3 linked regions of the Homo sapiens genome follow. The protein of the gene in region 3 interacts with the protein of the main gene of each other region in a pairwise test. Each region holds a gene or a part of one and is shown on either strand. Other genes may lie near its edges.

Region 1 (2,607 bases), on a different chromosome or scaffold from region 3:
AGGGCATGGCAGGCAGGGGGTCAGCTTCAGTGGGCCCAGACCACCAGATGAGTCTTCACGCCTTTGGACACTGGCCCTACGTTAGGGATGTGAGGCACAGATAGAAGATAAGTGTCCAGGTGAAGCCAGCCTGCTTGGAGGTCCACACTCTAGGAATTGGGGTCCAATGTTATGAACCACCTAACACCCAAGGTGGGGGGTCCTGAACCTGAGATATAGGGAATCAGGTGTCTCTGGAAGTAGGGGGTCCACACTGCAGTCCCACCAAAACAGAACAAATTCTGTTCCAACCGCCTTCCCTCTCCATTCCTTCACAGCTGAAGGAAACTGTCTACATCCCTTGCACCAACCATAACCCTAAACCCTAGATGCCTGTCATCCAAACCAATATTACCAGTTCTGTTTCTTTAGGCTCTGAGAATTTCACAGAAACTAAAACCAATATATATCACTTCTAACTCCATTTTCTACTCCACCCTCATCCCTGTCAATAAAGGTCACGCAACACTTTCAAGGGGAAGTGGGGGAACTAGGGAGATTATCTGGATAGCTCAGCCCTCAATTTTTTCCATGTAATTATTAGACTTTAGGTGAAAGCTAATGAGGAGGGCTGAATATTTGGGGTTTCCCCTTCATTCCTACCACATTTTGAAACTATAGACACAGCCCAGAGGGAAGACACAAAGTTCTTTCTGAAATGTTTGTTCCCATCCCACCCTCACAGAACACTTTCCCTGTACCCATCCCCATTGGGTCTGCTTTCTCTCATGGACTCTATACACAATGGGAAGAGTAGTGGTCACAGTGAGACACAGGGGAAAACAAAATGCTCAGGAAGAAAATGGGAGACGGGGTCCAATGGCCTCATTTGACTGTCTTCTGGTGACAATTTCTCAGGAAAACTGTTGGACCTGGCATTTTTCTCTGCCTCTGTGAGAATAAACTATGATTTAAAAAAATCTAAAAAACAAAATAACTTTATTTAAACAGTATGGATCCTTTAGGTTAAAAAGGATTTGTTTTTGAACACGACCATTATCTTTAAATCTCTCAGTTCTCAAATTTGTTTTACTCTTACAGAGGTAACCATGATTTGGGAAATTGACGATTTGTTGACAAGAATAGAATGAAGAGGATATGTAGTGATACCATGAGTTTGTTGCTTTTGTTGTTGTTATTGTTGTTTTTAATCCTCAGAACATTTTTTCAGGATTATTTTGTTAAACTCATTTTACAAGATTAGGAATCTGAGGCTCAGAGTGGGTAAAATAACTTAAGTGGCAGAACCAGATTTTAAAGCCAGACTTTCTGACTCTTAAAATGATACAGTAAGTTTTAAAATGGAAATAGGCCAGCTAATACAATCCAGCTTTAAAACACCTCCTTTTCCCTGGAGAAGAATACAGTAGGGTAAAGGTGGGTTTTTGTTTCTGAATTAGCCAGATAATTGTCCCTAATTTTTTACTTTACTCTCTTTAAACTCTCACAATTACCTATCCAATTTTGGTTTCCTAAATTCTAGCTCTAAATTTCCAATGAGATTTAATCAACCCTAAAAAAAATCAGTTTAAAAAGTAGACAACTGGTTTAAACTGGTTATTTTTCTCTATAGGATGCCAAGGATTGATTTAGCCAATTTGTCCTGGATCAGACCAACTGCAGGTTGGTTTGGCCTCCTGGGGAAATAACTCCAGTCTTGCCTTCTCAAAGAAGCCCCCTTTCTTTGTCTGCTGCCTTATCTGGAAAGGAAATGGTATGTAGAGATGAAGAAACATCTGGTAGCTTGGACCTGGAGATGTGCGTACACTGCCTAAAGTGAGTGGGGGCTTAGTTATTAATCTTACAATCACCCCTTCCCTAGTCTCCCTCCAGATCACATACACGAATGACTTCATGCCTGGAAACCTAATAGACACCTTTGAGGAGTAAATAAAAATCATCTCAATGCTCAGCCATGGCTTTCTTTTTGGGCTTCGGGGCCCCTCTGTTCAGCTCCCCACAGCCCACCCACCCTTGACCACCCGCCCCCCCACAGGCAAGCTCTGGGCTCTGAAGAGTGCCTTGTCCAGCTAGAAATCCAGCTTGCTACTCTTCCCAACCCAAATCCAAAGGCTTGTCAGTAAAGACTTCTAGTGTGGTCCAAATAGCCCACTGTTTCTTTCTCCCTCTTTCTCTCTCCTAAACCCCATCTCTCTTTTTCTCCCTTTCTGATTCTCTCCTGGAATTTCTGCTTCTCTCTCTCTCTCAAAAAAAAAAAAAAAAAAAAAAAAAAAAAAAAAAAAAGTCTACACTCACCGTAGGGAGAAAAAAAAAAAAACCAGAGCAATAAAGCAAGAGTCTGTATAATTGGGAGAAGGAAGAAGCCACGACACATCTTGGCCCTAATTATCTGGATCTTGCTGAACAATTGCCTCCATCTCCCACACCAGCCCAGACTACCACAGATGAGGATTCTCAGAGCCAGAGGCACTGTAGAGAGACAGCAGTGTTTATGCCTACATGTTGCCGAACAAACCACAATTGCACAGACAGAGTTATCTTGAAATCTCACTACTTCTAAAAGATCTCTGAGTGGGTAGAAAGATGGAGAGTGTCTGAAGATAATTT
Region 2 (3,500 bases), on a different chromosome or scaffold from region 3:
ACCTGGAACCCGGGCAACATGGAAAAACCCGTCTCTATTAAAATAAAATGTAAAAAAATTAGCCGGGTGTGGTAGCACGTGCCTGTAGTCCCAGCTACTTGGGAGGCTGAGGTGGGAGGGCTGCTTGAGCCCAGGAGATCTAGGCTGCAGTAAGCAGTGTTTGCGCCACTGGACTCCAGCCTGGGAAACAGAGCTAGACCCTCAAAGGGAGAAGGGAGAAGAAAAGGAAGGAAGGAAGGGAGAGAGGGACGGAGGGAGGGAGGGAGGGAGGGAAGGAGGAAGAGAGGGAGGGAGGAAGGGAGGGAGGGGATTGTATACATAATTGGTAACAGGAATACTCAGATGAAACAATTATTCAAGTAACTTGAAGAACATTCTGACTGTAAAATCTCAATGGGATATGCTCAGAGAACAAGAAACACAAATAAAATCTATGTTTCATTCACTAGATACAGTCAGCAGTTGTACTGACTTTGTTATTTTGATGCTATTTAATTACTGTTGTAAAATAAATCAAACAAACCCACATCTTAATGTTATTAAGAGGAAAGACTTTTAGTATAAAAAAGTCTGGCTGGGGCTGGGTGCAGTGGCTAACACCTATAATCCCAGCATTCTGGGAGGCCGAGGCGGGCGGATCACCTCAAGTCGGGAGTTCGAGACCAGCCTGACCAACATGGAGAAACCCTGTCTCCACTAAAAATACAAAATTAGTCGGGCGTGGTGGCACATGCCTGTAATCCCAGCTACTCAGGAGGCTGAGGCAGGAGAATCGCTTGAACCCGGGAGGCGGAGGTTGCGGTGAGCCGAGATTGTGCCATTGCACTCCAGCCTGGGCAACAAGAGTGAAACTCTTTCTCAATAATAATAATAATAATAATAATAAATTAATTAATTAAAAAGTCTGGCTGGGAGCAGTGGCTCACACCTATAATCCCAGCACTTTGGGAGGCCAAGGCAAGCAGGTCACCTGAGGTCAGGAGTTCGAGACTAGCCTGGCCAACATGGTGAAACTGCGTCCCTACTAAAAATACAAAAATCAGCTGGATATGGTGGTGTGTACCTGTAGTCCCCGCTACTCAGGAGGCTGAGGCAGGAGGATCACTTAAACCTGGGAGGCAGAGGTTGCAGTGAGCTGAGATGGCGCCACTGTACTCCAGCCTGGGTGACAGAGTGAGACTCCATCTCAAAAAAAAGTATTTGTGATGTTTTTGTTTCTTTGTTTAGAGTGGGGATCTCGTTCTGTTGCCCGGGCTGGAGTCCAGTGGCATGCCACCACACCCGGCTCGTTTTTTTTTTTTCTCTGAGACAGGGTCTTGCTCTGTCACCCAGACTGGAGTGCAGTGGCATGATCTCAGCTCACTGCAACCTCCACCTTCCCAACTCAAGCAATCCTCCTACCTCAGCCTCCTGAATAGCTGGGACTACACGTGCACATCACCATGCCAGGCTAATTTTTATATTTTTTATAGAGACAGGGTTTTGCCATGTTGCCCAGGCTGGTCTCAAATGCCTGGGCTGAAGCAGTCCACCCGCCTTAGCCTCCCAAACTGCTGGGGCTACAGGTGTGAGCCACTGCACCCGGCTAGGTTTTTTATCTTTTTAGACACAGGGTCTTACTATATTGCCCAGGCTGATCTCGAACTCCTGGCCTCAGGCAATCCTCCTGCCTCAGCCACACAAAGCACTAAGATTACAGGCATGAGCCACCAAACATGGCTATAACATTAATCTTTAAAATACTAACAGAAACTTTTTGAAAAGTCAAGTCTCTAACACTGTTCACTGAAAGAACCTAGAACAATATACACACTCAACACCCAGGTTTTGGTCTCTAAATACCACAGCTTCCTTGAAAAACAGCTGATTCTAGGGTGCGGAAGGGAAAGTTCAAAGTCAGCCCAGGACATCTTGCAGTGCCACAAAGCAGGAAGCACACAAAGAATGATACAAACACATGAAGAAGACACAAGAGGCTAGCCAGTTGGAACTGCAGGAAGACTGACTGACTGTAACAAGTCAGTAAATAGTGTATGGGTCTATAGTGACACTCAAACTCAAAGGGGCATTGGGGGAATACCTCTTGAAAGAGAAAGAAAAAAGAAAAAGAATTAGAAAAATCACCATTTTGCAAACACCAATGTGATAACTGGTTCAGGCAAAGCTCATAGATGTGAAACCCACTGAGTAAATGGCTATTAGGGAACAGGATATGCCAAAGTATCACCCCATAGACTGTTTACTAACCATGAGAACTAAATGTCCCTTCACAATGGACAAACATGGCAGATATCCCCTTAACCAAGTGACCAAACTTTCCCACATCGGAAAAGCCAGGCCGTACATGCCTGGAGATGTACTCCAATATGAACTAGATGGCAGCAACCAAGGATTATTCCTGCTAAAGATGTATAAACTGAATCTAACCAAGCCTCAGACACAATTCCCATTTAACAAAAAATGTAAGGGAAAGAGGGACGAGTTACATAACTCCATCAGGAAAAAAACAGACAGATAAAGAAACAATCAGGACATTCTACAAAACAACCGGCCTGCTAGGGTGAAAAAATCAATGTTACAGGAAAAAGAAAAAGGTATGGGGTGTAGGGGCAGTTTCTGTGCTATAGCAGGAGACATAACAACTGAATGCATACCAACTCAACTATGAATAGATTCTGAACGGTCCCACAGTCTGGGGATTTTTGAAAATGGACCATTAGAATGTCAGAGAATTCGTGTTTATTTTCTTAGGTATAATAGTCTTAAAGTGGTACAGGAGAATATCCTTATTCTCCACGGATGCCTAATTTAGGGGTAAAGCATCCTGATGTCTGTAATTTACTTTCAAAGGGTTCAACAAAAAAATCCAGAATTACGTATACACATAAAGCAAAAGTAGCAAAATCTTAACAATTATTGAACCTAAGTGGAAGATGTTAACTGTACTAATCTTTCAACTTGTATGTTTGAAATTTCACATAATAAAAAGAGGGGTGGCCAGGGCGCAGTGGCTCAAGCCTGTAATCCCAACACTTTCGGAGGCCCAGGTGGGCAGATCTCTTGAGGCCAGGAGTTCGAGACCAGCTTGGGCAACATGGTGAAACCTCATCTCTACTAAAAATACAAAAAAATTAGCCAGGCATGGTGTCATGCGCCTGTAGTTCCAGCTACTTGGGAGGCTGAGGCAGGAGAATTGCTTGAATCTGGGTGGCAGAGGTTGCAGTGAGCCGAGATTGCACCACTGCACCGAAGCCTGAGTGACAGAATGAGATTCTGCCTCAAAACAACAACAACAACTAGAGGTGGCTGGCATGATGGCTCATGCCTGTAATCCAGCACTTTGGGAGGCTGAGGTGGGAGGACTGCTTGAGGCTAGGAGTTCAAGACCAGCCTGGACAACAAGGGGGAGACCACACCTCTATAAAGGATGAAAAAATTAGCCAGGCATGGTGGCATACCCCTGTAGTTCTAGTTACTTGAGAGGCTGAGGTGGAAGGACA
Region 3 (3,386 bases):
GAAACTATCTCTCGGTTCCGGGCATTGGCGGTGGACCCCACGGAGTTTGCCTGCATGAAGGCCTTGGTCCTCTTCAAGCCAGGTAACTGAGTCTCTGCCCAAACCTTGAGTGGGAATTCTGGTGACTTCCATCTGCCTCTCACTCTCCCTCCACTACCCCCATGTGTGCAGATGTGTGTAGGCCTCTATCCTGGGGGGTGGGAGGAGAGTGGTGAGGCTGGACTCCCTTCTCCTTGGGGCCACTCCTGGTTGACTGTGAGGGGACAGGGCAGGCTGGGAGCCCCTGGGAGACCCTGAGCCCCAGCCGGAGCCCCTGGTGGCTCCTCTGGGCCTGGCAGAGCCCACCCCACAGGGCCCCAGGTCCATGTCTGCAGCCAGAACCCTGGGCCACCACTTCATGGCCAGCCTTATAACAGCCGTAAACCTGTGCTAAGCTCACTGGTGCTGCTTCTCCCCAGAGACGCGGGGCCTGAAGGATCCTGAGCACGTAGAGGCCTTGCAGGACCAGTCCCAAGTGATGCTGAGCCAGCACAGCAAGGCCCACCACCCCAGCCAGCCCGTGAGGTGACCTGAGCATGCGCCCACCCACTCATCTGTCCCTGACCTCTAACCTTTCTCTGCCTCTCCCACACTCTCCCAGAGCTCACTGATTAGACAGCACAAGGGTCTCAGTTCAACAGCATACAGCCAACATCTATGGTGTCCCAGGCACAGTGCCAGGCCCCGGGAGTGGGGACCAAGATGTACATAAGACAAAGCTACTGCCTTCTAGAGACAACCGGCAGTGACCTCACTGAAGACAAAAACTGCCCTAGCCAGGTACTGAGGGTTGCATGAATCTGCAGGAGACAGAGATCCCCTTGCATGGGAAACATAAAGCAGAATTGGGAGGGACTTTGTGGAGACAGGGCTGGACTTGAAAGGAAGAAGAAGTCTAAAAGAAAACATCATTTGCAAAGGGAGAGAGGGGCAAGCATGATATGTTGTTAGAACAGGAGCCCACTTTGAAGGTATAACAGGTTCCTGCCAGTGAGAAATGGGGAGAATAAGCCAGAAAAGTACCCTAGGACCAGCCCGTTCAGGACTTTGAATGCCAGCCAAAGGCCACGTCTGACTTGGGAGGCAGAGGGCAGCTACTGCAGGTTTCCGAGCAGAGGGTCATACACAGGGCTGGACCTCACGCAGACTGGCATGGCCATGGGTCCAGAGGATACTACTGGGAAGGGGATGGCAGCTACTGCCACCTTCCAGATGGTTCCATGGAGTTCTGATCTTTGGGCATGGCCAGGGGAAGCAGAAGGGAGACTCTAGGAGTTGAAATGGGTCAGACCCGGTGTTTGGGTGAAGGTAAGGAATGAGGGAAGAGGAGCTCTTTGGGAGAAGACATTGTTAAAAATATAAAAAGGAAAGCCAGGAGGAAAGACGGTTTTGAGGGAAGATGATAAGGTGTTTTGTAGGTGCACTGAGCATCCTGTAGAGATGCCAAGCACATGGATGGCCCTGGCTAGGTTTGGGGGAGAGTTGCTGCAGGCTGAGTGTGGCTGCGCGAGGGTGGGGCAGGAGCCGGTGCTCTGGGACTACGCTGTTTGGCCCAGCACAGGCAGATGTCATGGAGCCTCAGCAAGGTTGGAACATTTGGCCTTCAGGCATCTACTGGCTATTTTAGACCATGTTATCTGCAATCTTTGGGGCTCCCGGCAGTTTCTTTCTGAAGAAGCAAGCTAATATGGGCATCCTTGCATCACCTCTAATCCAAGAAATGATTACAAGGAGAAAAGGTAATTTCCTTTTAAGAAAAGCCACAGTATACAAAGTATATGCCATATAGCACAGGAAGATTTGTGCTGCTTATGAGCATAGGGAGAACGCTGCTACTACTAAGACTTGACTTAGCATCTGAAGAGTGGGATTCAGAGACATTCAGAAACCAGCAGCCTTTCTCTGCCAAGTTTCTGTTGGAACCAACTCCCAGAGATGTCCTGGCATATTGGTTATGCGTCAAATTTCAAAATGCTGATTAAGATTTCCTATGTCCCTTTTATAGCGGTTCATTGCCTACTACAAGGGAATTGAGCATGAAGATAGTGGTTTGGGGTTCTCTAATCCAGCATATTATTTCAGTTTTTAAAAACTGCAACACCCAGGAAGAAACACAATTACCATCGCCCCCTGATATGCACACAGACACCAAAGCGAAGTTCCACGAAGTAATTCCTACCCTTAGCTTTTACAATTTACCTGATGTTTCTCTTTTCTTTTTTTGAAAAGGCTGATTGTGACCCCCTGAATTTAATTTCAGACCCACTAGGTGAGGCAATACCTGCAGTTTGGAAAAAACATTCTTTAACTGACTTTATAGTTATTTCTTCTTCCTCCCACTCTAATTTAGATCAGAAAAACAGAAGCAGGGAAGGCAGATGGGAGGGGTATACGACTTGCTCAGTGCTGCTCACTTGGCACTAGCAAGAGAAAGGAAGGCCTTAGGTTGGCAAAGCAAGTCCAGCAGATCACTGAGTGGTGGGGAAGTCTTCCCCGAAATTCACGGTGAGAGGAGCATGGGACTGCCCAATGTGGAGTAGCCTCCTTGATGCTGGGTGTTGACCCTGGCCATCAGACCTACCCAGGGAAGGTTTAGTTCCCCCATCTGTCTCTTGGGGCTTCACCATCCGTCTTTTGTGTTGCGGACTCCTGTCTTAGCAAATACTTTTTTTTTTTTTTTTTTTTTGAGACGGAGTCTCTCTCTGTCACCCAGGCTGGAGCGCAGTGGCGTGATCTCGGTTCACTGCAAGCTCCACCTCCTGGGTTCACGCCATTCTCCTGCCTCAGCCTCCCGAGTAGCTGGGACTACAGGCGCCCACCACCACGCCCGGCTAATTTTTTGTATTTTTAGTAGAGACGGGGTTTCACCGCATTAGCCAGGATGGTCTCGATCTCCTGACCTCGTGTTCCGCCCGCCTCGGCCTCCCAAAGTGCTGGGATTACAGGCGTGAGCCACCACGCTCAGCCAGCAAATAGTTCTTATTTAAAACAATAAATATTTTTTTCAATGACTATCTCAGTCACCAAAATTATCCTTCAACTTCAGGACATTTTCAGTAATGGCTATCATCATCCTAGGTGGTATACAGACAGGAATTTGTATTCTTACAAACAATTCTTATCTACTAAAAACTAATCATATAATTATAATACTTATATATGAGATTAATAATAATATTTTCATATACAGGTGCTCCTTGACTTATGATGGGGTTACATCTGGATAAACCCATTGTTAAGTTGAAGCTACTGTAAGTTGAAGATGAATTTTCATACATAACCCATCTTAAGTCAAGGAGCATACTGAATGCTTATCACTTTCACACCATGATAAAGTCGAACCATCT

What was found. Proteins that work in one complex are often made in the same cells at the same time.
Region 1: the proteins of NR2E3 (region 3) and HOXC13 interact in a two-hybrid assay, tested with the Homo sapiens proteins (one large-scale study listed by BioGRID and IntAct).
Region 2: the proteins of NR2E3 (region 3) and DEDD2 interact in a two-hybrid assay, tested with the Homo sapiens proteins (one large-scale study listed by BioGRID and IntAct).

What each region holds. Positions count from the first base shown.
Region 1 is NC_000012.12:53,941,831-53,944,437, reverse strand, and holds part of HOXC13 (homeobox protein Hox-C13), read right to left. Parts: intron 1-2,607. UniProt on the Homo sapiens protein: Transcription factor which plays a role in hair follicle differentiation. Regulates FOXQ1 expression and that of other hair-specific genes.
Region 2 is NC_000019.10:42,211,178-42,214,677, forward strand, and holds part of DEDD2 (DNA-binding death effector domain-containing protein 2), read right to left. Parts: intron 1-3,500. UniProt on the Homo sapiens protein: May play a critical role in death receptor-induced apoptosis and may target CASP8 and CASP10 to the nucleus. May regulate degradation of intermediate filaments during apoptosis.
Region 3 is NC_000015.10:71,813,554-71,816,939, forward strand, and holds part of NR2E3 (photoreceptor-specific nuclear receptor), read left to right. Parts: coding exon 1-82; intron 83-458; coding exon 459-564; coding exon of another isoform or gene 565-568; exon of another isoform or gene 569-1,376; intron 1,377-3,386. UniProt on the Homo sapiens protein: Orphan nuclear receptor of retinal photoreceptor cells. Transcriptional factor that is an activator of rod development and repressor of cone development.